Homo sapiens: one gene and its partners. The protein of the gene in region 3 purifies or fractionates together with the protein of the main gene of each other region. This does not show direct contact. Each region holds a gene or a part of one and is shown on either strand. Other genes may lie near its edges.

Region 1 (7,028 bases), on a different chromosome or scaffold from region 3:
TTACCTTTATAGCCATCCTCCATCACTTCTTCACCACTACTATAGTCCTCATCTAGTGAACTACCGACATCAGAACCTGAATCATATTCAGAGTCTTCAACAACTCTCTTTGGATTAAAAACATTTTTTTTACGTTTCTTGTTAAAGCCATTTTGTGCTTTCATTGAAAATTTCTGTTTTAGTTTTGTTTTAGTTGCATTTTTAGGGTAATTTTGACTTCTTGAAGAAACTTCTTTTCCATTTGGAACCTCACTTTGTGATACATATTGCATATCTGTATATAAAAGACAAAAACAGTAACTAAATTAGAAATACATAAATATAAAGATAGACTTCAAATAAAAACTTAAAACATTTACCTATTCCTATTGAATACAGAAGAATTCAACGACAATTTATTGTTAAATTTGATACACTTTAAAAATACTTAAGTAGAATTTGAAGTTAAACAATTGTTTCAAAAGCAGGTGATAACTTGTTTTTAAAATGAATTAAATATAAATCTCTGTTTTCTAACAAAGGTCCTGAGAACACAAATGGCAGCTGCGTATCTGTATGATGTCTCAGATATTCCTAGCAGCCCCACTCAACTATGCCAACACTGAAGAATATAGCAGAATGATGCTTACACTACTATAAAGCTTACTAATAAAAAGTGTGTATGTTTCAACTATCCATAATTTTCCAATACTATCTTCAATATTCTAAGTTGCATCGTTACTTAAAAAATTATTCAAATAGGCTGGGCATGGTGGCTCACGCCTGTAATCCCAGCACTTTGGGAGGCCGACGCGGGCAGATCACAAGGTCAGGAGTTCGAGACCAGCCTGACCAACATGGTGAAACCCTGTCTCTACTAAAAATATAAAAATTAGCCAGGCATGGTGGTGCATGCCTGTAATCCCAGCTACTCAGAAGGCTGAGGCAGGAGAATCGCTTGAACCTGGGAGGTGGAGGTTGCAGTTAGCCGAGACTGTGCCACTGCACTCCAGCCTGGGCGACAGAGCAAGACTCCGTCTCAAAAAAAATAAAAAATAAAAAAAATTATTCAAATACAGTATTATCAAAAAGCCCCACTACTTTATCACTGATTATCAGTTTACAGAATTCTAAGATGCCTGTGAATGAAGGTAACACCATTATTTTATGTACCAGTGAGAAAACATGCACCAATCTATAATACAATACTTTATTCAGAAATTTTTACTTACTCAGAAAGCTATTAGACTTACACAGATTATCATACCTTTATTTTTGTGCATTTATAAAAAATAAGCAAAATGAATTGGCTAAAGTATTCCTCAAATGTTTTCACATTCATAACATGGCTCTTCTGACTCATTTTTCAAACTCATATTTGGTGGCTTTCTTTTTGCCACAGAATATCATTTTCTGTGCCATCAACAGTATTGGTAGTATAGCCTTTTAAAACAATTTATTAAAAACAAACAAACAAAAAAACCCAAACCAAAACACCAAAAGCTACCATGCTGGGTTTGCAATTATGAAGAGCTAGTCTACTTGATTCTTCCTTAGGTATGTTACTAAACATGTATGACTCAACTCTTCCTTACCACCTCTCCTCTATCATTTGGTTCCTAGAATTAAGAGTGTTCCAAAATGTGTTCATGCCTATGATACCCTTAAGTTTTTGATGCTAGTGCTTTTGATATCTGTGCAAGTATAGGCTAAGACATCTACATTACAGTAATGACATGATATCACCAATCACAAGATCCATCCTGACAGTTGTTAAAAAGGTTATTTTACACTCAATAAAACATGGCAATTTAAAAGTAGCCTTAACTATTAAGAAAGACTGAACAAATAGAAAAAGATATTTATTGTTTTGTTTTACACTATGATAAAGAACAGGCAGGTCAAAACATTTAAAAACTGGTTGTTAAAGAATGTTTTTACATCATTACTTTCAACATCTTTTGCAATCCCACCCTCTGATTAACAGCTAATAGCTTTTCTTATATACCATTTTCTTATATACTAAAATACAGACTATAATGAGAAGTATGTATTTTCTATGACCCAGAATAATTACCTTGGTCTTCTGCAAACACTTTTAGAGATTCTAAAGCTTCTGTGTACATCCATTCATGTTCCTTGAGTACTTCTCTAAGTTCCTAGAAATAAGTCATTTATCTTTTTGTTAAAAATCTCAAATTAGCAACTTGCAGAAAACGTCTATGCTCTTTTAAAAATAAGTTAATCACCTGAAAACAGAGAATTCACATCTGATTATTTTGCACTTGTTTTTACACTGCTTTACAAATGCTTTCTGTGTAATTTCACCTCCACAAATACACAATAGTCTTCAAAGGAAAGAAAACTTGACATTTTTTTGCATTTCTAATGCTCACTATGAAGTACTGTGAACACTAGAGGATCAAGAAATGTTTTCTCAATTAAAAATGAAATTTCAATATGCAGCTAGGCTTTTACAAACTGCTAACTTCAAAACGTAGTTTCAACAAAGGTAAAGAACCAATATTGCAACAAGATTTTGCATTCAGCTCATCAGAATTTAGTAGATGTACTATCTGAACATATATACTCAAATAAATCAGTGCAAGTGTAAATGTACTCTAAATGCTAAACAAATATGTGCTTCTATATATGATCATGGGATTAAACAGAGGGCCTTTTAGCAACAGGATGCGTGGCATGAGTCTTTTTTTTTAATGACTCTGAAAACATTCTCACTATCTGGGAAGTAGTAGAAAGCTTATAAAATATTAAGACACTGAAATGGAATACTTTTTAAATTCTTGTAAGAAATTTCAAGAATGAGAACATGAAAAAAACTAAGCAGTTACTTGATGGGGGCAGGGTTACAGATGACTTTCTAGATGACTTACATGTTATAAATGAGTTCACAATTTTTATTACGGTTATTTTTTAATGACTTAGGGATACAGTATAGATACTATAGTAAACAAGGTAAATAAACAACATAAATAAACAGTATGAAAATACTTTATAACATTGATAAAAGGAGAACATTTAATTAGAAGAATACAAAACTCACCCTAAGCTTTTATGTGGTTGAACTCTTAACACTATTTTATAATAAAAACACTTAGTACACACTGATTAAATTTTCATACACGACTACTCACCTGTTTATCAAAATTGGGAAATTCCTTTTGCAATTTCAGTACAATACTTTCCTGCTTTTCCCAATTACTGCTAGATTCTGCAGACTCATTTGATTCCTCTCCCTAATGGGGAGAAAAAAAAAAGAAAACAATTTAAGAGATATCAATAACAATGGTCTTAAGGCAATTATCATTGTATTTTGACTTGATCTGAAAATTATCATCATCAGTCAGAAGAATCCAAACTGTTTCTTTTTGTTTCTGTGAACATTGACATATTTATGTCTTTAAGGATGAAAAATATTGCTGACTTAAGATCACTGAAAGACCCTGATTGCATATCCGGTAACTCAAACTTTATTCTCAGTGCTTAAAATGAGATAAATCTCCTAAAAAACTAGAATGATCCTCAAATTAACTCAATATAATTCAAGTATACTGATGCCTTCTCCAAGACAACGGTAAATTTTAAAAGGATACAAATATCTCATCTATGTTCACTATTATATATCCACCTATAAATTTCAAATTCTGAGAAGAGTTTACTTTTACTTCACTCTTGATTCACAGAATGGCTTAAATATTAATTGTTCAGTCACAACATAAAACTGAAACAATGATAAAAGGAATTTAAGTGGAACTAAATAATGTATAAACCGAACAGATTAATTAATATGAGAATTGTGGCTATACATAGTCTCACTTTTCCTTCTTCTCTGTCACTTAACTTCACTTGAAGAAACTGGTTAAAGTCCACATTTAAGCAAAAAGAAAAGACTCCTTGTGTTCATGCATAGGAAAAATTTTAGTCAATCAAAAAGCATTTTTCTACTCTGCTTAGAACTGCACCACATGCTATACACACAAGATGGAGAAAAATACAATCTTCTTCTTCAACCTCCTTTATTATCCAACAACTGAATTGCTATTTTTCTCTTTCAGTACCTTAGATAGAAATAACTAAATTCTGATACCTCCTCTGCACAATGGAGTAAAATAAAATTTCATAAAACAGAGACCAATAAAATGCTATGGATATCTGGACTAAAGAAGAAAATTGCATGTGTTTCATAATACTAAGTGGTCTACTTGGGCTCAAATGCAGAGAATGTTAATAGGTTACAAGGATGAAGAATTAAACCAGAGCTAACATGGAATAAAGCCTAAGGTTAGTCTTTTTTAAGAAGCAACAGGATTTTGAGCAGGGGAATAATAAGACATACTGGTGAAACCCATCTGGAGAAACCATTTCAAAATCTTCAAAATTCATACTGCCACCTTTACAGCCCAGGCACACTGAAATTCCAAGAACAGTATTTTAAAGCTCACAGATGGACAACAACCAGCTGAGGAGGGAACAGATCCAAGTATCTAACTCTAGACCACTGCTTTTTCACTACATAAGTGAAAACTAAACTTCAGTTGTTCATTTGTTAATATATCAAATGTGCGTCATGGACAAATTGTGGTAAACACATAAAATGGAATATCACTAAGTCATAAAAAAGAATGAAGTACTGATACACACCACAACATGAATGAACATTGTAGTATATCTGAAAGCATTATGCTATGTAAGAGGCTAATAAAAAAGAACAAAATCATGTTCTTCGCAGCAACACAGATGTAGCTGGAAACCATTTCCTAAGCAAGCTAATGTGGAATCAGAAAAATCAAATACCACATTTCCCACTTATAAATGGGAGCTAAACATTGGGTACACGTGTTCATAAAAATGAGAACAACAGACACTGGGGAACACAAGAAGGCGGAGGGAGGATGTGGGGGAAGAGTTAAGGAAAACTACCTATGGAGTACTATCCTTACTATCTGGGTGACAGATTCATTCATACTTCAAACTTCAGCATCACGCAATATACGTTTGTAACAAACTTGCACATGTACCCCAATTCTAACATAAAGTTGAAAAAAGAAAAAACAAATAAAACACATTTTTCTGAAATTAAAAAATAAGAGGCTAGACATAAAAGGTTACATATTATATAATTCCACCTAAATGAAATGTTCAGAATAGGTAAATCCAGAGACTGAAGGCAGATTGGCGGTTGCCAGGGGTTAGGGGGAGGAGGGAATGGGGAGAAACTGCTTAATGGGTATAGCATGCTATTACGAGGTGATGACAGCGTTTGGAACTAGACAGGAATGATGGTATACAACACTGTGAATGTACTAAATAGCATTAAATAGTTCACTCTAAAATGGTTAATTTTATGCTATGTGAATTTCACCTCAATAAAAAAATACATAAAATATCTGGAAAACAGTAAACAGCTCTTCGGAATCAAATATTTAGTAGATGGTGTGCCTATCATGTGTTGTTTGCTCTTGGGTCCCACACTTATGCCAGCTCTGCTTATCCCTGGTGACTGAATATACTCATGTGGTCCAGGAGGTTACACAGACACTTTACAAAAGCTAGCTGATAAAATTTGGGACTGTATCTGTCTCAGCGGGCCCAAGGGATATGATTCGACCCAGTGCTTATTTTTCCATCTCCAGAATCATAGTTGGAACAGACATATTTGGCACTGGCAGAAATCCCATACTATATCAGTTCCCTGACCCATGATGTATGGGCTACTATTATAGGAAACACCAAATCCAAGTCCCTAGAATTGTCCCTCTCAATCAAAACAATAAGCAATTACTACAGTCCTAAAGGAACTGCAGATATTGACACCACCATCCCATCCCAATGTAAGATGCCTCCTTGACCTATACAAAAAGTAGATGAGTCTTGCAAGTATTTAAGAGTATCATAAACAATCAAACTCCAGCTGCAGCTGCTTTACAGGATGTGGTATTTTTGCTGGAGCAAATCAATATGGCTATGCAGTTATCAATCAAGTACTTGCTTTTTCCCCTTTCCCAATTAGATCAAACAGAAACAATCCGTTTTTATCTTGGCAGGTTTAATGATATACCTTCAGTCTTCAGAGTTAGAGTAACTTTCCTGGCTCTCTCAAATAATACAGTACTCATGGACTTAGATGGTTTTGCACAGTCTAGAGAGTATCACTTGATCCACTATACTGACATCATGTTGACTGGACTTGATACAGGTAGTGGGTATTTTCAATGGTACTGGTCAGATACGTACATGCCACATATCAGGGTGAAGGAATAACCATCCTCACTCTGAGGCCCACCACTTTCGTGGGAGTGTAGTCTGGAGCATGTTGCAAACTCCACTCTTAAGAAAAAAGAAAGGCCGCACCTATCTGCCTCTTTAGACTGGACATTGGGAGCTCACTGCACACTGGAGGCAAGATATACTTCATTAGGGTGTGTACTGCTTGATTCATTTTATAAAATACCTCTTAAGATTGTCAGTTATGGCTGGGCACGCTGGCTCACGCTTGTAATCCCAGCACTCTGGGAGGCTGAGGCGGGTGGATCACGAGGTCAGGAGTTTGAGACCAGCCTGGCCAACACAGTGAAACACCGTTTCTACTAAAAATACAAAAAATTAGCCAGGCGTGGTGGCAGGCACCTGTAATCCCAGCTACTCGGGAGGCTGAGGTGGGAGAATTGCTTGAACCCGGGAGGCGGAGGTTGCGGTGAGCCAGGATCATGCCATTGCACTCCAGCCCAGACAACAGTGCGAGACTCCATCTCAAAAGAAAAAAAAAAAAAAAAGAATGTCAGTTATGAATGGGGCCCAGGTTAAGAGACGGCTCTGTACCAGGTCCAGAGTGCAATACAAGGTACTCCGCCACTTGGGTTTCGTGACCAGCAGATGCAATGATTCTCCAAGAATCTGTTGCAGGTAAGGATGTTGTATGAAGTCTTTGGCAAGCCCCAGTGGGAAAATCGTTTTAGAGAGTTTTAAAGAAAGGTCATCATGTCCTCTTCTACTGACCACAGTCAGTTTTGCTGTGACACATATATTTC
Region 2 (6,855 bases), on a different chromosome or scaffold from region 3:
AACATCCTAACCACCGAAACACATGATTAGGAACTCAAATTTGAGAAATACAACAAGATGGTAAGATGAGTCAGAAGGATACATCATTTTTGTGATTAGTGTTCCAACACTATTCTTTATCACGTTTAAGCAAAGAAGATGAAAGAGATTCAAGCTTTTTCAGAGGGTAACACAAACTTTATATTATTCCTATTCCTTATTGCCTAGGAACCTCAAGTAACTTCCACTAATAGGTTTCTCTTGCTCCACACTTCCAATAGATTTTCTTTCACTTCTGAAATAAAGCAGTATTGCTTGTAATTTTGTTACTGAGAAAACCAACAATGCAAATGAAAGCATGTTAGTTAACAAAATTCAGTCACTAGCATTGTGTTCTATGGCAATCACTTAACTTCTCTGAAACTTAATTTATTGATCTGTAAAACAAGAAGATAGGGTTTTAAGAGGTATGTATTTCTATGAGTCTATAATTAGAAATTCTCATGTGCTGTGTCAAAACTCCCATGGATTAAAAATAACTCTTTAATAATGATTCTAAATGTAATACACACCCATTAAAGAATATCTGTAAAATTATGTATAAAGAAAAAAACCCTCACAATCCTATTACTCATGGGCCTTATTGTAAGGATCCTAAAGCAGCTAAAAATATCACTGACAGGTTTTTAAGATGTCAGAATGTCACTGGTCTGGATCTTATTTTTATTTCCAACAGCAGGGTCATTAATTTTTTTCCTCTCTCTTCTGCTGTATTTTTCTGCATACTATAAAAAAGTTCAATAACTGCCCGGAGAATGCATTAGGTACAGTTTTCCACACAATCCTCTTCTCCAGATCTATTTTATGGGATCTCCTGTATGATCTAAAACACTATCCACAGTTGTTCATTGCTTAAGCTCTAATGGATAAAGTTTGAACACTATAATTTCACATTTAAAAACACTTTAATTTGGCAAAATCTCATCCCAGCCTTCCTTTCCAGATTCACTGTTCTCCGTTCCAAATTGCTCTATAGGTAAACTGGCTGCCTGGAGGCTGTTCACTCTAATGTGTGAGTCAGTTAGAGGGATGGTCCACCCAGGCTGGGCCTTGGACACTTCTAGTCCTCATCACCTATTGGTCACTTCATCTAGGGTGGCCAAGCGCCTAATATTCAGAGAGAATCTGGGCAAGAATGAAGATTTAAAATTCTAATGGTAGTGGTTTCAATTCCTGGTAATATGGAATAAGCACACTCCACTGTCTCTGCCAGTGAATCAAGCTATAAATCAGCAATTTGAGGACTGGAAAAGAAACAGCAGCAGGAAAATTGAGAAGACGACCAGAATTCCTTATTTAACATTTACCTTCCTGATAATATTGTTATAAAAAATACATTTACAGTATTTCAATAAGTAGATGGGAAAACTGAATACAAACATAATCCCTTGAACTGTAAAAGTAAATACTTTCCAAAAAAAAAAAATCGAATTTGGGCAAGGATAACTTAGTAAAGTGTTTTAAAGTGGATCAAGTAGACAAACAATCCTCTGCAGTATTTCAAAGTAGCAGAGCACACAGGTTTGGATTGAGATCTTGGTTCAAATCCTGACTCTACCTCTTATTAGCTGTCTGACCTTGGATAAGTTACGTCAGCTCTGTGAATTTATTCCCTCATTGCAAAATGGAGAAAATAATAGTACCAACCTCACAGAATACTGAGTGGACTAATTAGGTAACGAATGCAAACCATTAAGCATACTGCTGGCACCTATAAAATGTTCAGTAAAGTTAGCTATTAGTAGCAATAGTTTCCTCCGAATTCCAAAGGACTTATTCTACGCCCTATTTGCTCAACTACTAATCTTTATTGGACATACCGCTACAAAAAGAAATCGGTATGTTCCTTTGCTTCCAAGAATGAACGACCTACAGTTTAAAATGCAATATACCACTAAAAAGAAAAGTTTTAGTTAAATGCGCCCTCTAGTGGTATGTTATGTGTAAGTACCTTGCATCTACCAAAGATAAAACCTCTTCATGAAATGTCACTACCCTGAAACCAGCTGGTTGAGATCATTACAGTATGGGCAGCACTACCACACATCTTTTAGGAAGTTCCCTATCTTCAAGAGCTGGAAGTTGCTGTTGTTTGTTTGTTGTCTTTTAAAACTTTCTCCACCATATGAACTACGGTATTTGTGATATGTACCATACCAAATCTCAACATTCCTACAAGCACTGACTTTAAAATCCCTTCTCTTAAAGAAAACTGGGCCACTTTCTAGTTTGCTTTAAACAAACATCGCAAAGTACTTATTCTTCATTTACTTAACAAATACGAGGGCCAGGCGCGGTGGCTCACGCCTGTAATCCCAGCACTTTGGAGGGAAGAGGTGGGCGGATCGCCTAACTCAGGAGTTTGAGACCAACCTGGCCAACATGGCGATATCCCATCACTACTAAAAATACAAAATCTAGCCGGGCGCGGTGGCGGGCGCCTGTAATCTCAGCTACTTGGGCGGCTGAGGCAGAAGAATCGCTTGAACCCGGGACGCAGAGGTTGCAGTGAGCCGAGATCGCGCCATTGCACTCCAGCCTGGGCGACAAGAGCCAAACTCCTTCTCAAAAAACAAAACAAAACAAAACAAAAAAACAAATACGCAGTGAGCACCAAGGATGTACCAGGCAATGAGGATACAATAAACTTACACAATTATTGTGTAATTACAAATGTGAACCGTGTCATAAGAAAGTATAGACTGCCGTGAGCACACAGTAGGGGATTGGTCTAGTATGGGGGTAGGGGGCTGGAAGGCTTTCTTGAGAATAAAATACTTAAAGCCTTGAAGGGTGAGTAGAAAGTAACTGGAAGAAGAAAAGGAGTACCATACAAAGAGACTAGCAAATGTAAAGGCCTGGAGATGGCAAGGTACACACGGCATTTGAGAAATTGAAAAAATGATCCTATGCACGGAGCTCAAAGGAGAGACTGAGCAAGGTGAGGCTAGGGAAGTAGGCAGGGACTTCATAAGGAGTTCGAATTTCATCCTAAAACAATGGGAAGCGAAGGGAGAGTTTAAAGCAGTACAGCAGTACTGCTTTAAATGTAATGATTTACATTTTCAAAAGTTCCGTTCCTACGACACGGAAAATGGATTTCAGGGAGTTGGGGCAGAATGAATCCCCAGACCAGTTGTAGAACTACAGGTACAATATGGGACAAGGGAGGAGGTGCCAACAGAGATAAAAAGAAGTGGACAAATATTCAAAAGGTTAAATGGATTGAGCAAACTGTTGAGAGTAGTGGTCCTGGTAAATTGCATTTTTTCACTAGGCACAGCTGGTGGTGGTATCCATTTGCAAGAAGCTACAGAAAATGAGCCGTTTGGAAATCCAGGGTTTTCCTCTTAAAAAGAGAACTTGTTTGGCTACAAAGTGTTAACATTTTAATTGAATGCTCAACGAGCACTGAAGGGGGGACATGAGGCACTGCCTCTCACCCAAGAGAGCCCCCAAATGTCCTTTTCAGACTTTTATCACAGTGACCCACTCCCACCGCGCCTTTACCTTGCCTCTGCCTGGAATGTCCTTAACTCCCTCTTGCCGGCAATTTCACCAGATTTTTGATTTCTTATCCAGTCTCACGGGAAGCCTTTCCGGCATCTCCCACCCTACCGATCTTCCCGTCTATCTCGCCTGCTACACTGTGAGTTCAGACAGCACGGATTGAACTCTTCATCTTTTCGTGTCGGCGTCCTGCACAGGGCCATCCCATCACTAAGCGCGCCACAAACTCAGCCCAGTATTGACGCCCACGAGTCGCTTGTAAAGACCGTCTGTGACGCCGGAAGTGACGCGCTCTCGGGCACTATGTGCTTCCGGTCTCCAATACCGCAGGAGGGCGGTCTTCCCCGGCTCGCCAACTCGGCTGCTCTGGGGGATTCGTGCGCGGTAAGAAGCTGCGCGGTAGCGCGGTGAGGTGAGGTTCTCAGCCACCAAAGCTGCAGGGTCTCGTCGTTCGTTCCCTCTGGCCTGGCGGAACTTGCGTGGGAAGCTGGGAGGACAGAAGGCTTAGCCGCTGGGTCCCTGAGCTGGCTGGAGCGCGGGCTGTCTAGGGGCGGCGACCTCAGCTGTTGGGCTCCGGCTGCTGGGGGCTGTGCGTCCAGCCGCCCTGGAATCCGCCTGTGGGTGGGCCGCTTGGCTCTCCCACTTCACCCTCTTGATAACCCAGAGCCTCCCCCTTCCCACGTACGTAGGGGAAGGATAATCTACTTCCTTTTGAACAGCTTCGGTCCCCACTATGACAGTCGCATAAACTTCAGCGAAGAGTGCGCTGGTAAAGTGGCATGGAGTTTCTCACACCAATTCATTGGGTCCACCCTTCAGCTTCTGTGGAAGGGGTCTTTCTGTTACTAGGAGCTGAGACTTGGGGGGTTGCCAGGGATGCTGGTCTTAAAAGGTGATAATTTAGGCCGGGCGCGGTGGCTCACGCCTGTAATCCCAGCACTTTGGGAGGTCGAGGCGGGCAGATCTCCTGAGCTCAGGAGTTCGAGACCACCCTGGGCAACATGGTGAAACCCCTTCTCTACTAAAATACAAAAAATTAGCTGGGCGTGGTGGCACGCGCCTGTAATCCCAGCTATTCGGGAGGCTGAGGCCCGAGAATCGCTTGAGCCCTGGCGGCAGAGGTTGCAGTGAGCCAAGATCGCCCACTGCACTCCAGGTTGGGCTACAGAGTGAGACTCCGTCTCAACAACGACCACAACAACAACAAAAAAGGTGGTGGCTTAATACAGCCATGCTCCCCTTAAGAACTGGTATAGTTATGAGAAATGGTTGGGCCGTTTCGTGGTTGTGTGAACATCATAGTGTACTTGCACAAACCTACACAGCTGGGCCGTATGGGATAGCCTGTTACTCCTAGTCTACAGACCTGTACAGTATAACTACTAAATACTGTAGGCAGTTGTAAAAGGATGGTGTGTATCTAAACACAGAAAAGATACTGTAAAAATATAGTGTAAAAGAAAACATGGTACAGCTGAATAGGGCACTTACGCATGGAGCTTGCAGGGCTGTCGGTAGCTATTAAGTGAGTCAGTGAGTGGTATGTGAGTGTGAAGGCCTACGATATTATTTAGGGTATTACTGTACACTACTGTAGACTTTATAAATGCGGTATGCTTAGTCTAAGTTTATTAAAAATAAGGTAATAACCTTAGCTTACTGTGCTTTTTTAACTTTATAAACTTTTAAATTAATTTTAACTCCTTGACCTTTTTTTTTTTTTTTTGAGACGGAGTTTATTCTCTCTGTCTCTCATTTTTGAGACAGAGTTTTGCTCTTGTCACCCAGGCTGGAGTGCAGTGGCGCAATCTCAGCTCACTGCAACGTCCACCTCTTGAGTTCAAGCGATTCTCCTGCCTCAGCTTCCCAGGTGGTGCGCGCCTGTAGCTGGGACTACAAGAGTGCGCCACCACGCCCAGCTAATTTTTGTATTTTTAGTAGAGATGGGGTTTGACCATGTTGGCCAGGATGGTCTCGATATCCTGACCTTGTGATCCACCTGGCCTTGGCCTCCCAAAGTGCTGGGATTACAGGCGTGAGCCACCATACCCGGCCCACTCTTTTGTAATAACACTTAGCTTAAAATGCTAATGTGTTGTATAGCTATATAAAAATATTTTCTTTATTCCCTTACATTATTCTATAGCTTTTTCCTGTAAAAATTTTTTTTGTTGTTATAAACTAAGACACACACATTGTGCCTACACCGGGTCAGGAGCATCAATATCACTCTTTTCTTCCTCCACATCTTGTCCTACTGGAAGGTTTTCAGGGGCAGTAACATGAATGGAGCTGTCATCTCCTATAATAACTGCTTTTTTCTGGAATACTTATAATTGTCTAGTATTATGTACAGTACATCATTGTAAGCATTATGCTTGTATATGACTGGCATCCCAGGTTTGTTTACACCAGCATTACCACAGACATGAGTAATGTGTTACACTACAAGTTATGAGGGCTACAAAGTCAATAGGAATTTTTCAGCTCCATTATAATCATCTGAGACCAGTATCATGTGTGCAGTCGCTGTTGACCTAAATGTTATGTAGCATGTGACTAGCTGATGAATCTTTGATTATGGCTGAATGTTCTCATTCATTGCAGGAAAAAAATATCCTCCAAATCACTAGGTAGTATGTAAGTGACCAAAACTTTTTTCCATTTTATGTTGGAGCCAAATCATTAGTGTTAGGATAAATTACTTCTTTATGTATGTGCTCTAAAATGAAAAGTTATTTCTGAATATTAAAGCATATGTATTAAGAGTATAAAAACAAGATACAGATTTTGGTGTGAAATATATCTTATGATTCAAGTCATAATTTAAATAGAATTGAAGATGATGTGAAATCACTGGGCTGGAAGTAGCTTATACCTTGATTAGTAAGAGGAAGCCCGGGATCATCCTGTGATGGTAAACACTTTTATATGTTTTACTTATAACTTTGCCAGGAAATTTCAACAAACTTCATATTAAAGGACATGATTTCTGTATACTTAGTAATCTGCTATGCAAATTGTTGCATTGAAATGGCAGACGAAGCAAGAAGATTGGGAGAAAGTAGCTGTGGGACTTGGAGATAGGAAAATAAACAGCCGGGAAAACTGCAGAATGTGGGAGGAATAATTGCATTCATTGTATTACTATCTGATTTATATTTTATGAAATAATTTGGTTTCTTAAGATAGTTTTTCAATTTTAAGCACACCTTTTTTAACTGGTGTGGCAGCTTTTCTGGTAAGTGGTAGATTTATGTTAGAAGCATGTCTATGCAGCATATTATAGCATTAAATATGTATACA
Region 3 (7,381 bases):
TTTGTATTTAGTAGAGACAGGGTTTCACCATGTGGGTCAGGCTGGTCTTGAACTCCTGACCTCAGGCAATCCACCCGCCTCAGCCTCCTGAAGTGCTGGGATGGATTACAGGTGTGAGCCACCACGCCCAGCTGACCTGACTTTTCTTAACAGATTCATGCAGCCCAGGTTTTTTGTTTGTTTGTTTGTTTTTGTTCTATTCATTTAAACACAGAGTCTCAATCTGTTGACCACGCTGGAGCGCAGTGGTGTAATAATCATAGTTAACTGCAGCCTTGAACTCTTGGGCTCAAGTCATCCTCTCGCCTTAGCCTCCCAAAGGGCTGGGACTACAGGCATGAGCCACCATGCCCACACGCCCAGCCACAATTAGGAGGCTAGAGCTCCCGCCTTTTTTTTTTGTTGTTGTTGTTGTTTTTGTTTTTTGAGACAGGATCTCATTCTTTCGCCCAGGCTGGAGTGCAGTGGTGCAATCTTGGCTACTGTAGCCTTGACCTCCCAAGTCTCAATCGATCCCCCCACCTCAGCTTCCCAAGTAGCTGGGACTATAAGTGCCCGACACCATGCCTAGTTAATTTTTGTATTTTTTGTAGAGAAAGGGTTTTGCCATGGTGGCCAGGCTGGTCTTGAACTCCTGGGCTCAAGCAATCCCCCCACCTCGGCCTCCCAAAGTGCTGGGATTATAGGTGTGAGCCACCACACCTAGCCTGTAACTGTAGTTTTTTTTCCACCACCTCTGTTCAAACATCTCCTTCCTCTGAATATCTCACTGCTGCCTCCTCATCCTCCTCCTCCTTCTTCTTTCTTCTCCTTCCTCTTTTTTTTTTTTTTTTTTGAGACGAGTCTCGCTCGGTCGAAAGCTCCGCCTCCCGGGTTCACGCCATTCTCCTGCCTCAGCCTCCTGAGTAGCTGGGACTACAGAAGCCCACCACCATGCCTGGCTAATTTTTTATATTTTTAGTAGAGACGGGGTTTCACCGTGTTAGCCAGGATGGTCTTGATCTCCTGACCTAGTGATCTGCCCGCCTCGGCCTCCCAAAGTGCTGGGATTACAGGCGTGAGCCACCAAGCCCAGCCTTTTTTTTTTTTTTTTTTTTTGAGACTTAGTCTTACTCTGTCACCCAGGCTGGAGTGCAGTGGCACCATCTTGGATCACTGCAACCTCCGCCTTCCAGTTTCAAACAATTCTCTTCGGCTGGGCCTGGTGGCTCATGTCTGTAATCCCAGCACTTTGGGAGGTCGAGGCGGACAGATCAGCTGAGGTCAGGAGTTCAAGACCAGCCTGACCAACATGAAGAAACCCCATCTCTACTAAAAATACAAAATTAGCTGGGTGTAGTGGCGCATGCCTGTAATCCCAGCTACTCGGGAGGCTGAGGCAGGAGAATCGTTTGAATCCGGGAGGCGGAGGTTGTGGTGAGCCGAGATTGCTCCATTGCACTCAGCCTGGGGAACAAGAGCAAAACTCCGTCTCAAAACAAAACAAAACAAAACAAAACAGAAAACAATTCTCATGCCTCAGCCTCCCAAGTAGCAGGGACTATAGGCATGTGCCACCAAGCCCGGCTAATTTTTGTATTTTTAGTAGAGACAGGGTTTTGCCATGTTGGCCAGGCTGGTCTTGAACTCCTGGCCTCACGTGATCCACCCACCTCGGCCTCCCAAACTGCTGGGATTACAGGTGTGAGCCACTGCTCCCGGCCTCATTGCCTTCTAATTTTGTGACTTTTCCTGCCACATTGTTTGTCTTTATTCCTTGAAAGCTTTGAGGTTAGTGTTTTGCCCATAGTATATGCTTTACAATATTGATTAAAGGGTTAGAGAGATAGATGTGCATGTCACTAGCTAAGAGACATGGCAAATGGTGTATTCTCCTGCTCGCAGGACCCTTGGGGGTGGCATTGAGCTGGTGAAACTCTGCAGTATAACACATACATAGAAGTAGGGGCTAGGGCGGGCGTGGTGGCTCATGCCTGTAATCCCAGCACTTTGGGAGGCAGAGGTGGTTGGATCATGAGGTCAGGAGTTCGAGACCAGCCTGGCCAAGATGGTGAAATCCCGTCTCTACTAAAAATACAAAAATTAGCCGAGCAAAGTGGCGGGTGCCTGTAATCTCAGCTACTCGGGAGGCTGAGGCAGGAGAATCACTTGAACCCGGGAGGCCAAGGTTGCAGTGAGCCGAGTTTGCACCACTGCACTCTAGCCTGGGCAACAGAGCAAGACTCCGTCTAAAAAAAAAAAAAAAAAGGGCTGGGCACAGTGGCTCACGCCTGTAATCCCAGCACTTTGGGAGGCTGAGACGGGTGGATCACGAGGTCAGGAGATCAAGACCATCCTGGCTAACATGGTGAAACCCCGTCTCTACTAAAAATACAAAAAATTAGCTGGGCGTGGTGGCGGGCGCCTGTAGTCCCAGCTACCCGGGAGGCTGAGGCAGGAGAATGGCGTGAGCCCGGGAGGCGGAGCTTGCAGTGAGCCGAGATGGCGCCACTGCCCTCCAGCCTGGGTGACAGAGCGAGACTCCGTCTCAAAAAAAAAAAAAAAAAAAAAATGTGGAGGCTAATGGGGTGGGTGCTGGCTTGTTCCATCAGCAATTTTCAGTTCAGTGCCTTTCACATACATGCTTGTATCATTCTGTTATGATTCATTGTGAATTTATATGCTTTACTAGACTGTAAGCTCCATTCAAAGCATGGCCTATGACTTATTTATGTACGCTCTCCCAATTGCCTAGCACTATGCTTTGTACGTTGAACAAATGTCACGTGAAAATAATGTAGGGAGATTATGCAGAATATTGAACTTGAGAAGAAAACAAGAGCTCAGGTGGATTCCTGGTTTAGCAAGCAAATTAGGATACTGTGAAGGAAGGATGCCTATCAGTGGTATGAATAAAGGCTCTGTCTGCCCCAGGTTTAAATCTTTATTCCCCACTCCTTACTAGCAGTATGGCCCTGGAAACTCATGGAATCCCTCTGAGATCGTTTCTTCATTAGTAGAACCAGGATGATAACCATTGGTTCACAAAATGCTAGTAAAGAATTAATAACGGGCTGGGTGTGGTGGCTCACTCCTGTAATCCCAGCACTTTGGGAGACCGAGGTGGGCGGATTGCTTGAGCTCAGGAGTTCGAGACCAGCCTGGGAAACATGGCGAAACACCGTCTCTACCAAAAATACAAAAAATTAGCAGAGCACTGTGGGTGCATGCCTTCACTCCAGCCTGGGCAACGGAATGAGACCCAGTCTCAAAAAAAAAAAGCGAATAACTAATGGCTCCGGTGCTGTGGCTTATGCCAGTAATCCCAGCCCTTTGGGAGGACGAGGCAGGAGGATCACTTAGCCTAAGGGTTCGAGACCAGCCTGGGCAACACAGGGAAACCCTGACTCAACAAATAACATAAAAAATTAGCCAGGCGTGGTAGTGCACACCAGTAGTCCCAGTTACTCTGAAGGCTGAGGCAGGACGATTGCTTGAGCCCAGGAGTTAGAGGCTGCAGTGAGCTGAGATTGCACTACTGCATTCCATCCCGCCCGGGTAACAGAGTGAGACCCTGTCTCAAAAAAATAAAAATAAGGCCGGGCATAGTGGCTCACGCCTGTAATCCTAGCACTTCGTGGGGCCGAGGTGGGTGAATCACTTGAGGTCAGAAGTTCGAGACCAGCCTGGCTAACATGGTGAAACCCCATCTCTGCTAATAAATATGAATATTAGTCAGGAGTGGTGGCACGCGCCTGTAATCTCACTTACTCGGGAGGCTGAGGCAGGAGAATCGCTTGAACGTGGGAGGTGGAAGCTGCAGTGAGCCGAGATTTCGCCACTGCACTCCAGCCTGGGCGACAGAGCACGACTCTGTCTCAAAAATAAATAAATAAAATAAAAATAAAAAATAATAAAGATGAAATATGTAATATGCTGGGCATGGCGCCTGCCCCCAGGAAATGCTAACCATAATTCCCTCCCCTAAAGGGCAAACAAAGAAGATAACCATTCTCCAAAGTCAAGGATGCTCTGAGAACACCAGTAAAAGGAACTCAGGATAATCTCAGCTCTAACTCGGCCAGAGTGGCTCCATCGCTCAAATCGTTCCCTCCTTCAGTGATTGGCTGAGCCTGCCAGAGTCGAACAGCGGAAAGCAGCCCCGGGGCCTCTTGCTGCCCCCAGGTCGGTGCAAGTCGCTTCACAACTCCTTGTAGTCGCCTGATCCTAGCAGTCCAGCTTCCTGCCCTTATGCAGCTCTTGGCTTCGTTCAAACGGACCGCCTTTGCTAGCACCCAATCAGAACGCTCGATCTTCGGCTCTCGTCCAATGAACGCGCGTATTGGGGAGGGGAAAAAAGACGGCGTGAAGCCCAATCGCAGCGCCATTACACTTGAGGGCAAAGAGGTTAGGAAGCCGGCATGGCGCTCCGGTCAATAAAATCGATAGCTGGAAGCTGCCTGTGTTCCAGGCAAAGGCGGTGCGGTAGCAGCGCCGCCATTTTCCCCGAAGGCATCTTCCGGTGCCTTTCACCCAAGTTCGGGCAGGAGTTTCCTGAATAACAGCAAAAGGTTTCCGTTAGCCCCGCGGGCGACCAATTCCGATTCCCTCCGGGCCTCCCCGGCCACGCTCAGCCCTGGTCCGGCAGGGGCTCCTCGATCCCAGGGGCCGCCAGCGCCCGAGGGCCGAGGCCTGGACACGGAAGGCCGTGGCGCCGGCTTCTCGGGTCCCATGGCGCCACCTTCGGCTCCGCTCCCTGCGCAGGGACCAGGAAAGGCCAGACCCAGTCGGAAAAGGGGCAGGAGGCCGAGGGCTCTGAAGTTCGTGGACGTGGCCGTGTACTTCTCCCCGGAGGAGTGGGGCTGCCTGCGGCCCGCGCAGAGGGCCCTGTACCGGGACGTGATGCGGGAGACCTACGGTCACCTGGGCGCGCTCGGTGAGGCCGGCCCCATCCGCTGCCGCGGGGCGCGAAGGGATGCAGGAGCCGGAGAGGGTGTAGGCAGGGAGGCCACGGTCCTGGCAGGCGACCAGGTTGTCAGGGGAGGTGGGCAGGGGCTTAGCAGGAGGTGCCGTCGGGGAGATACTACTCGGCGTGATCTAGGAGCTGGCCTTCTGATTTGTTCTCTTTCCCCAGGGTGCGCAGGTCCCAAACCAGCCCTCATCTCCTGGTTGGAACGAAACACCGATGACTGGGAACCGGCTGCTCTAGATCCGCAGGAGTACCCGAGAGGGCTAACAGTCCAGAGAAGTGAGTGCTAAATAACCACGCAGAGCCTGCAGCCCTCCTATAACGTTCTACCTCTAACGGCTCTGTCCAGAGTTTTGGTTGGGCTAGGGGTGGGTGCCGCGTATTTAGTATATTCATCTTCCCAGCCTCTTGTGTCTGGTGGTGTGGGGCCGGTCCACCACACAGAGATTCCTATGTCAGTCTGCAAGCTGCAGTTTTCCACTGTGTGAATGAATCAGTGGGCTTATTCTTCGTCTTTTTTTTTTTTTTTTTTTTTTGTAGAAACATTGTCTTGCTCAGTTCGGTCTTGAACTTCTGGCCTCAAGCGATCCTCCTGCCTTGGCCTCCCAAAATGCAGGGGTTACTGGCGTGAGCCATTGCAGCCAGCCAGAATCAGTGAGCTTTTAACAGGTGCTACCCTCTGCCTCCTTTCCAGGATCTCTGCCTCTAGCCACCTTTGAGTTGGACCAAAGAGATCCTAAACTTCTCAGAGTTTTCTGGGTTTTGGTTGAAGGGAGCTCATGGGGAACAGCTGCCTGGGATGCAGGGGCCTCTTTCTGCTCTTACGGCAGGATGACCCTTATCAGCGAAGGACATACTGCAATCTCCTCAGAATCCAACAAGGCTCTGCTTAACCCCATTCAGGTAGAAGGGTCCCAGATCCACCCATAGTAGAAGATGGAGCTGTCTGGGCTGGAATTTCAGAGCCAGATTCTTCAAGACCAGGGATAGCTGTCCAAGATTCAGATCTGACCATGATATTTCCTTGCTTAAAACTTTTCAGTTAATTTTTGCCAAGGTTGTTAAATGGCCATTGGTTATATCTAAATCACTTGGGGAACTTGGTAAAAACGCAGGTTCCAGGACCCCATCCCAGAGCTATTCATTCACTCGTGTGAATGTTTAGGAACTTCCATTTTTTAAATAGCCTCAGCTGATTCAGATGTGCATCTAGGTTTGAAAACCGGCCGGCTGGTGGCTCATGCCTGTAATCCCAGCACTTTGGGAGGCCGAGGTGGGTAGATCACTTGAGGTCCGGAGTTCAAGACCAGCCTGACCAACATCGTGAAACCCCGTCTCTACTAAAAAAATACAAAAATTAGCCGGGCACTATGGTGGGCGCCTGTAATTCCAGCTACTCAGGAGGCTGAGGCAGGGAGAATTGCTTGATCCTGGGAGGTGGAAGTTACAGTGAGCCGAGATCATGCCAGTGTACTCCAGCCTGGGTGCCACAGTGAGACTCCATCTTGGGGGAAAAAAAAAAAGAAAAGAAAACCATTGGGTAAAATACAGTCCAAGGTCTTTAACAATGCTAACAGCAGTGGTTCTCAAAGCGTGGTCTCAGACCAGAAGCAGCATTATTTGGAAACTTGTTAGAAATGCACATTCTTGGACCCTACCCCAGACCTGCTGAATCCAAAGCGGGCACTAGGGCCTGGCATTCTGTTTCAGTAAATCCTCCCAATGATTCTGATCACAGTGGAGTTTGAGAACCATTGGCTTAGAGGGCCTTTTGACCCAGTCACTGCTAGCTCATACCTCATAGGTTTCCATATCTTGCCTTACACTCTTTTGTGTGTGTGTGAGACGGAGTCTTGCTCTGTTGCCCAGGCAGGAGTGCAGTGGCACGATCTCAGCTCACTGTAACCTCTTGCTCCCGGTTTCAAGCAATTCTCCTGTCTCAGCCTCTGGAGTAGGTGGGACTACAGGTGCCCACGATCACACCCGGCTAATTTTTAGTAGAGACAGGGTTTCTCCATATTGGTCAAGCTGGTCTCGAACTCCTGACCTCAGGTGATCCGCCTGCCTTGGCCTTCCAAAGTGCTGGGATTGCAGGTGTAAGCCACCGCGCCCAGCCTGTCTTGCTTTTACACTTTGTGTCTAAGAAGATCTTAGGGCCTGTGCACACTGTACACTGAGCCTTGGGACTTATGTTTCTTTTCTTTTTTTTTTTTGAGACGGAGTTTTGCTCTTCCACCCAGGCTGGAGTGTAGTAGTGCAATCTTGGCTCACTGCAACCTTTGCCTTCCGGTTTCAAGTAATCATCTTGACTCAGTTTCCCAAGTAGCTGGGATTACAGGCGCCCGCCAGCATGCACGGCTAATTTTTGTATTTTTAGTAGAGACGGGGTTTCACCATGTTGGCCAGGCTGGTCTCGAACTCCTGACCTCACAG
Region 4 (6,134 bases), on a different chromosome or scaffold from region 3:
ATAGAGCCAGGAGGGAGACTGAGGTCCCAGGTCCCACCCGCTAATCCTTGGCCTCAAAGACCTCAGACGGTGGTTCCCAAAGCTGCAAGCTGCAGGGCCCTGGGGGAGCTTGCTGAAAACATGGCTAGATCCCCAAGACTCTGCCACACCAGCGAAATCGGAGTCTCTGAAGGAGGGTCCAAGAATATGTTTGTGACACGCTTCCTTGGAGGGTGAGGGTTTAGGCAATATTTGAGAACCTTTGAGTTGGATCAGCTGTTGCAAACACCTAAAGGTATTCTGCGTTCTTGGATTTTAGAGAGATGGCCCCTCCCAAGCGGATGGGTCGTGAGAGCCCATAAATACCTTCTAGCACCTCAATCCCAACAGCTGGTCGATTCCTCCTGAGATTTACCCTAATCTCCCAGATATGCTGATTTGGCCTGTTTCCTGCTGAGAGAAACAGAAACAGCCTGGGACTGCCCCTCCCCAGCCCTCAGTGGTTAGAAAGACAAACAAACCAGAAGGAAAGGACCAGGCAGAAGGGGGACCTCAGGCCCCTTCCAGAACCACCACAAACACACACGCACATACTGGTCAGCGCAAGGCTCTGATGGCAGCAGCTTATCTTCATCTTCTTTGTTAAACAGAGATGACATTGTCAGCCAGCCTTTCACCCCGACCCCCTGAACCTGGGAAAGGGGTTGGGAGTCAGGGAGGGGGTCCAGCACAACCTCCCAGGACTCCACAGAAGCCTCTGCCAGGCTGCCCAGGGTTGGGGTGGAAGAAGGGAGAATACTCACCCGGCGGGCCAGCTGTGACATGGGATTGAAGGTCTCCTCGGTCGGTTCTGCTGTCTCAGACCCCACTAATGCTGGGTTCTCCCTCTGGGACACAAGACCCCCACACAGCATGAGAGAGGCCGCAGAGGAGTGAGATCTCCCTCCTCCACTGCTAGCCTAGTACACACAGACCAGGCACCCCAAATCCCACAGAACTAAACACACACCTATACACTCCACAGATCCACAAGGGCACATGGGAATGCATACAGGTATACCTGCAGAGTAAATCCCTGCAGACACCCTTTTTTTCCTTTGTGTGTGCGTGTGTGTGTGTGATGGAGTCTTGCCGTGGGGTGCAGTGGTGCGATCTCGGCTCACTGCAACCTCTGCCTCCCATGTTCAAGTGATTCTCCTGCCTTAGCCTCCTGAGTATCTGGGCCTACAGGCACCCACCACCGCCCTGCTAATTTTTGTATTTTAAATAGAGATGGGGTTTTGCCATGTTGGCCAGGCTGGTCTCGAACTCCTGGCCTCAAGTGATCCTCCCACCTCGGCCTCCCAAAGTGCTGGGATTACAGGCGTGAGCCGCCAGTCCGAGCTGCAGACACCCTTGAGCACACATACCTGCCCACCACAGACACATCCATATACACCCAAAAGCACGTGGACATGGGCATGCACTCTGATGTAGACACACACCTGTACATGAGCATGCCCCCACATGGCTACAGCTCTTCACCTGTACATAGACATACGTGTTGTGAAGCACCTATACAAGGACACACACAGTTATATCATTCACACCTGTGCACTTATACAACCACAGACAGCTGCACAGAGGCCTATCCACAACACACAAAACCTCTCCACCCAACCACAGATACCAAAACACATACACCATACAAACAACACCTGCAAATGTCTACACAGAGGCATGCAGGCAGACTGCTACCCAAAATGTTCACACCTTCACATACACTTTCACTGGGGATTCCACCCAGATACTGATCACACCAGTTACCCACTGACATTTCTGCACAAGCCCAGCCTTAGACACCAACCTCTCCAGACATTTAAGAATTCAAACCATTCCCCGCCCCTCTGAACCGATTCCTGCCTCTGCCACATTTTGTGTGATTGTGTGACTGCCACTTATCACAGCCTCCAGACATAAGACTGTCCCTGGTTTCAGAAACTTTGCTGTTGTTGTTTTGAGACAAAGTCTCACCTGTCACACAGGCTGTAGTGCAGTGGAGCCTCGACCTCCCTGGGCTCAAGCAATCCACCCGCCTCAGCCTGAGTAGCTGGGACTACAGGTGTGTGCCACCATGCCTGTCTAATTTTGTATTTTTTTGTTGAGATAGGGTTTCACCATGTCACCCAGGCTGGTCTCGAAATCCTGGGCTCAAGTGATCCTCCTGCCTCAGCCCCCTGAGTAGATGGGATTATAGGTGCCCACCACCATGCCCAGCTAATTTTTGTATTTTTAGTAGAGGCAGGGTTTCGCCATGTTAGCCAGGCTGGTCTCGAACTCCTAACCTCAGGTGATCCACCCTCCGTGGCCTTCCAAAGTGCTAGTATTACAGGCAGAAGCCACTGCGCCTGGCCTGTTTGTTTGTTTTTGAGATGGAGTCTTGCTCTGTCGCCCAGGCTGGAGTGCAATGGCTCAATCTCAGCTCATTGCAACCTCTGCCTCCCAGGCTCAAGCAATTCTCCTACCTCAGCCTCCCAAGTGGCTGGGATTACAGGTGCACGCCGCCATGCCTGGCTACTTTTTTTTGTATTTTAATAGAGACTGGGTTTCACCGTGTTGCCCAGGCTGGTCTTGAACTCCTGAGCTCAGGCAATCCACCCACCTCGGCCTCCCAAAGTGCTAGGATTACAGGCATGAGCCACCGTGCCCGGCCCAGCCTGTTTTTTGTTGTTGTTGTTTGTTTGCTTGTTTTTTGTAATGTCAGAACAAAGCATGGTCTAAGTATGGCTTTGATCTGATGCTGCTGCAGTGACCTTTCTAGTACAGGCGCCACTCCCCCTACCTCTAGTAACATGGGGCTCACTACATCACTCCTACTTCTGCTCCCATTAGAAAGTTGTGTCCAGCTAAGTGTGCCCGTGTGCCTACTGCCCACTGGTCCTAGAAGAATCTCTTCCATGTGGCAGCCTCGAGATCTTTGGAGACAGTGGCCACTCCTCCCATGGTCCCTAAGTCTTTTCTTCCTCAGTTTTCTTGAATGTCCTGGCTTTCTGATGCTGCACCATGGTTTTTACCATCCCTGAATGTGGCATCTGCACAAATGTGGCCCCCCCACCTCCAAGCCTATCCTGTGCCCCACTTCATACTGCTCATTCCTGCTGCCCCTCTGCACATGCTCCACCCACCATGCATGGATGGCACCCACCTCCTCTGCCAGGTCTTCTTCAGATTCCCCACTCAGGGTCTGTAGCACTTTGGACTTGTAGGTTTTCCAGAAGGCCTGGTTCATGGCTGCAGGGGGAAGGGGCCTGGCACGCAAGCACAGGAAGGTGGTGGCTCAGTGGATACCAGTGAGTCTGGCTCTAGGAACTTGGTGAGGCCAAGAGCCTGTCCGAGGGATCCAGTGACTTCATTAAAGATGCACCAGCCTCCCCAGCTGGCACAGTGCCCAGGAGGTGAACCTGATCCAAAGGAGTCGGGGAGTGGGGGATGGAACAAGCTTCTGCCACCTTAGCCCCTTGTCTTGACCCATATTGGCCAAGAATAATGAAGTCATTTGTCTCTAGAGAGGCTTTCTTCCTGGGCCTAGGAGTACTTGAGTTGTTCATCTCTTAGCATGCCTCCAGGAAAATCTTCTTCCATTCACAAAATCCTGAGGTCTGGGACCCACACTGGAGCCCCTGTGACTGTAGTCATACTAGTTGTGTCCTCAGCAGGGCTCCACCCTGTGTCCCTACTTAGCCTCAATGAACTGGAGCAGGAAGGTCCGCAGGCCCCCAGTGGGCACCTTGGGCTTACATTTCACTCCTTTGTCTGGGCTGGAAACTGATTCCTCTCCCCAGGGATACACGTGCCTGTCTCCTTGTTTCCTGGCAACAGACTCCAAAGAGCTGGAGCCCCTGAATTATTGCTAAGCTCCTCTGGCCCCTTCCAGCTGAGTTGGCTCTGGCCAGCCTGGGAGGCACCAGGCTCCTGTGAATGGGGAAAGGCCCTCTAGCCACTCTGAGCATGCAACACCTAGGCCTTTGCTGCCAGCCCACCTCTGGGAGCCCAGGGCTTAGAGAAAGGAGGCAAAGATGGAGAGGTCCTTCTATGAGTACTTGTGAGAGGAACTGATCCCTCTGGAGTCTGGATGCCTGAGGACTGCACTCTCTGGGGAGGAACACCCTTCACGGATTTGGTTGGGGTCAGAGAGAGGATGGAGACTCAAGGGAATAACGGGAGCCCGGAGAAGTGAGGGCTTTTTCAGGGACTGGAGATTATCTCGGGAAGCCCTGGTGGGGCTGGGATTCCAAACTTATTCACTCTCAGTCATTTACTAATTTATTCATGACACAGACATTTATCAGTGCTTTCCAGAGATAAAGCATCCCACCCCCACCGCGGAGTCCAAGGTCTGGGAAACAGGAAGGGATGACAGGAGTACAGGTTGGCACTGATACTGGTTGGACCAGGCCAGGAAGAGCAGGGCAGCAAGACGGCCCCGAAACCCCCAGGCGCACGCACCACCCCGCGCCTCCCCAGCGAGGGCCCGCGGGGCCATGCCCTTCAGTGGGCACACTTCTGGGAGCCCGTCCTGAGCTCGGTCACTGACGTCGACGGCCGCCTGGCGGCGCTCGAGCCGCTGGCCGAGAGTGACGTCATCAGAGGCGGTCCGGCCGAGCCTGCCTAGCCCCCCGGCGTGGCCTGACGTAGCTGATCGGCCCGGAAGTGCTCACACGTGTGCTCCCTGCCCTGCTCCTGGCCCCTTGGCCGGCCGGGCTGTTTCTGGCCATGGGTCGCTCCCGCCGGACAGGCGCGCACCGAGCGCACTCTCTAGCCCGGCAGATGAAGGCGAAGCGGCGGCGGCCGGACTTGGATGAGATTCACCGCGAGCTGCGGCCTCAGGGATCCGCACGACCCCAGCCCGACCCAAACGCCGAGTTCGACCCCGACCTGCCAGGGGGCGGTCTGCACCGCTGTCTGGCCTGCGCGTGAGTCCCGGACGAGCCCGGCCTGGGGCGGAGGAGGGTCCGCGGTACCGGCCGGGAGATGTGAAGTTGAAGCCCCAGGCAGCGCAGAGTCTTCTCTCTTGGGACCCGTGGGTCCGCCCGCCTCCCGTTTCTCAGACCCGGATCCTGGCGTCAGGGACAAGCTAGGGCTAGGGAGATAGGTGCACTTGGGAGACTATCACCTCCTCACTCTCCTTCTCACTTCCATTCCTACAGGAGGTACTTCATCGATTCCACCAACCTGAAGACCCACTTCCGATCCAAAGACCACAAGAAAAGGTATGAAGGAGTAAGGAGAGGATTGATGGATGGGTGCTCAGCAGATAGGGCTCTCACCTGGTCAGCTCCCAACTCCTGTTTTTCTTTCTCCCAGGCTGAAGCAGCTGAGCGTCGAGCCCTACAGTCAGGAAGAGGCGGAGAGGGCAGCGGGTATGGGATCCTATGTGCCCCCCAGGCGGCTGGCAGTGCCCACGGAAGTGTCCACTGAGGTCCCTGAGATGGATACCTCTACCTGACATGGCCTGAAGATGCAGGGCAGAGGAATTGCCCATGGACAGTGACGCAAGGACTAGGCTGGGAGGGAGCGTGCCAACCCCTTTTGCCTCTGGGTTTGGGGAGCGGAGGGCCTCTTCTTGGTGCCCTGCCCCAAATAAAGGAACTGGACAAAGAGAACTTGCCTCCAACTCTAACTTCCAGGCCGCTGTCTCAAACTCCTGCCCTGGAAGGGCTTCTCTACTACTTTCTGTACACCAGGCCTAGGGTGTCTACTCCCCACTTGGTCTATCTCTGCCTTCCCTCTGAGGTCCTAGCATCTGAACTGGAGCACCCAGATGGAGGCCTGATGCAGTGTGGGGTGGCGGGAGTGGGATCAGATTACTCTGTCCTGCTTCTGACAGAGACTGATCCCCAGAAAAGAAGGCTTCTGAGATTGCACCCCCCTCCCGAGTCACCTACCCCCAGCATCCAAGTGAGAGTCTCTCTTCTTCGTTACGGGGCCCGTGGCACCCGCCGCTGCCCCACCATCTTCCAGACGGCATAGCAGGAGCCACCCAGGCCGAGGACAGCTAGCACTGTAGCCACAACTCCTGCCAGCAGACTCCGGGGCTCTGCCTTCAGCTCACCAGCTACCTGCATCTGGAGGTGCACAGAGGGTGTGCCTCAGGGGTCAGTTGAGACTGCCAGGAA

What was found.
Region 1: the proteins of ZNF689 (region 3) and SMARCAD1 purify together in Homo sapiens (affinity purification with mass spectrometry; 2 studies listed by BioGRID and IntAct, with this or other methods). This does not show direct contact.
Region 2: the proteins of ZNF689 (region 3) and ZCCHC9 purify together in Homo sapiens (co-immunoprecipitation; 2 studies listed by BioGRID and IntAct, with this or other methods). This does not show direct contact.
Region 4: the proteins of ZNF689 (region 3) and ZNF593 purify together in Homo sapiens (co-immunoprecipitation; 2 studies listed by BioGRID and IntAct, with this or other methods). This does not show direct contact.

Annotation. Positions count from the first base shown.
Region 1 is NC_000004.12:94,245,862-94,252,889, reverse strand, and holds part of SMARCAD1 (SWI/SNF-related matrix-associated actin-dependent regulator of chromatin subfamily A containing DEAD/H box 1), read right to left. Parts: exon of another isoform or gene 4,337-7,028; intron 3,237-4,336; coding exon 3,135-3,236; intron 2,229-3,134; exon of another isoform or gene 2,139-2,228; coding exon 2,057-2,138; intron 275-2,056; coding exon 1-274. UniProt on the Homo sapiens protein: DNA helicase that possesses intrinsic ATP-dependent nucleosome-remodeling activity and is both required for DNA repair and heterochromatin organization.
Region 2 is NC_000005.10:81,297,738-81,304,592, forward strand, and holds the start of ZCCHC9 (zinc finger CCHC domain-containing protein 9), read left to right. Parts: upstream 1-3,849; 5' UTR 3,850-3,961; exon of another isoform or gene 3,962-4,318; intron 4,319-5,472; exon of another isoform or gene 5,473-6,466; intron 6,467-6,855. UniProt on the Homo sapiens protein: May down-regulate transcription mediated by NF-kappa-B and the serum response element.
Region 3 is NC_000016.10:30,607,371-30,614,751, reverse strand, and holds the start of ZNF689 (zinc finger protein 689), read left to right. Parts: upstream 1-4,362; 5' UTR 4,363-4,710; coding exon 4,711-4,915; intron 4,916-4,923; exon of another isoform or gene 4,924-5,010; intron 5,011-5,113; coding exon 5,114-5,227; intron 5,228-7,381. UniProt on the Homo sapiens protein: May be involved in transcriptional regulation.
Region 4 is NC_000001.11:26,165,253-26,171,386, forward strand, and holds ZNF593 (zinc finger protein 593), read left to right. Parts: upstream 1-4,655; 5' UTR 4,656-4,731; coding exon 4,732-4,931; exon of another isoform or gene 4,932-5,165; coding exon 5,166-5,228; exon of another isoform or gene 5,229-5,322; coding exon 5,323-5,464; 3' UTR 5,465-5,621; downstream 5,622-6,134. Other genes in the region: uncharacterized protein C1orf232, read right to left, coding at 574-671, 783-866, 3,164-3,247; transmembrane protein ZNF593OS, read right to left, coding at 5,937-6,083. UniProt on the Homo sapiens protein: Involved in pre-60S ribosomal particles maturation by promoting the nuclear export of the 60S ribosome. Negatively modulates the DNA binding activity of Oct-2 and therefore its transcriptional regulatory activity.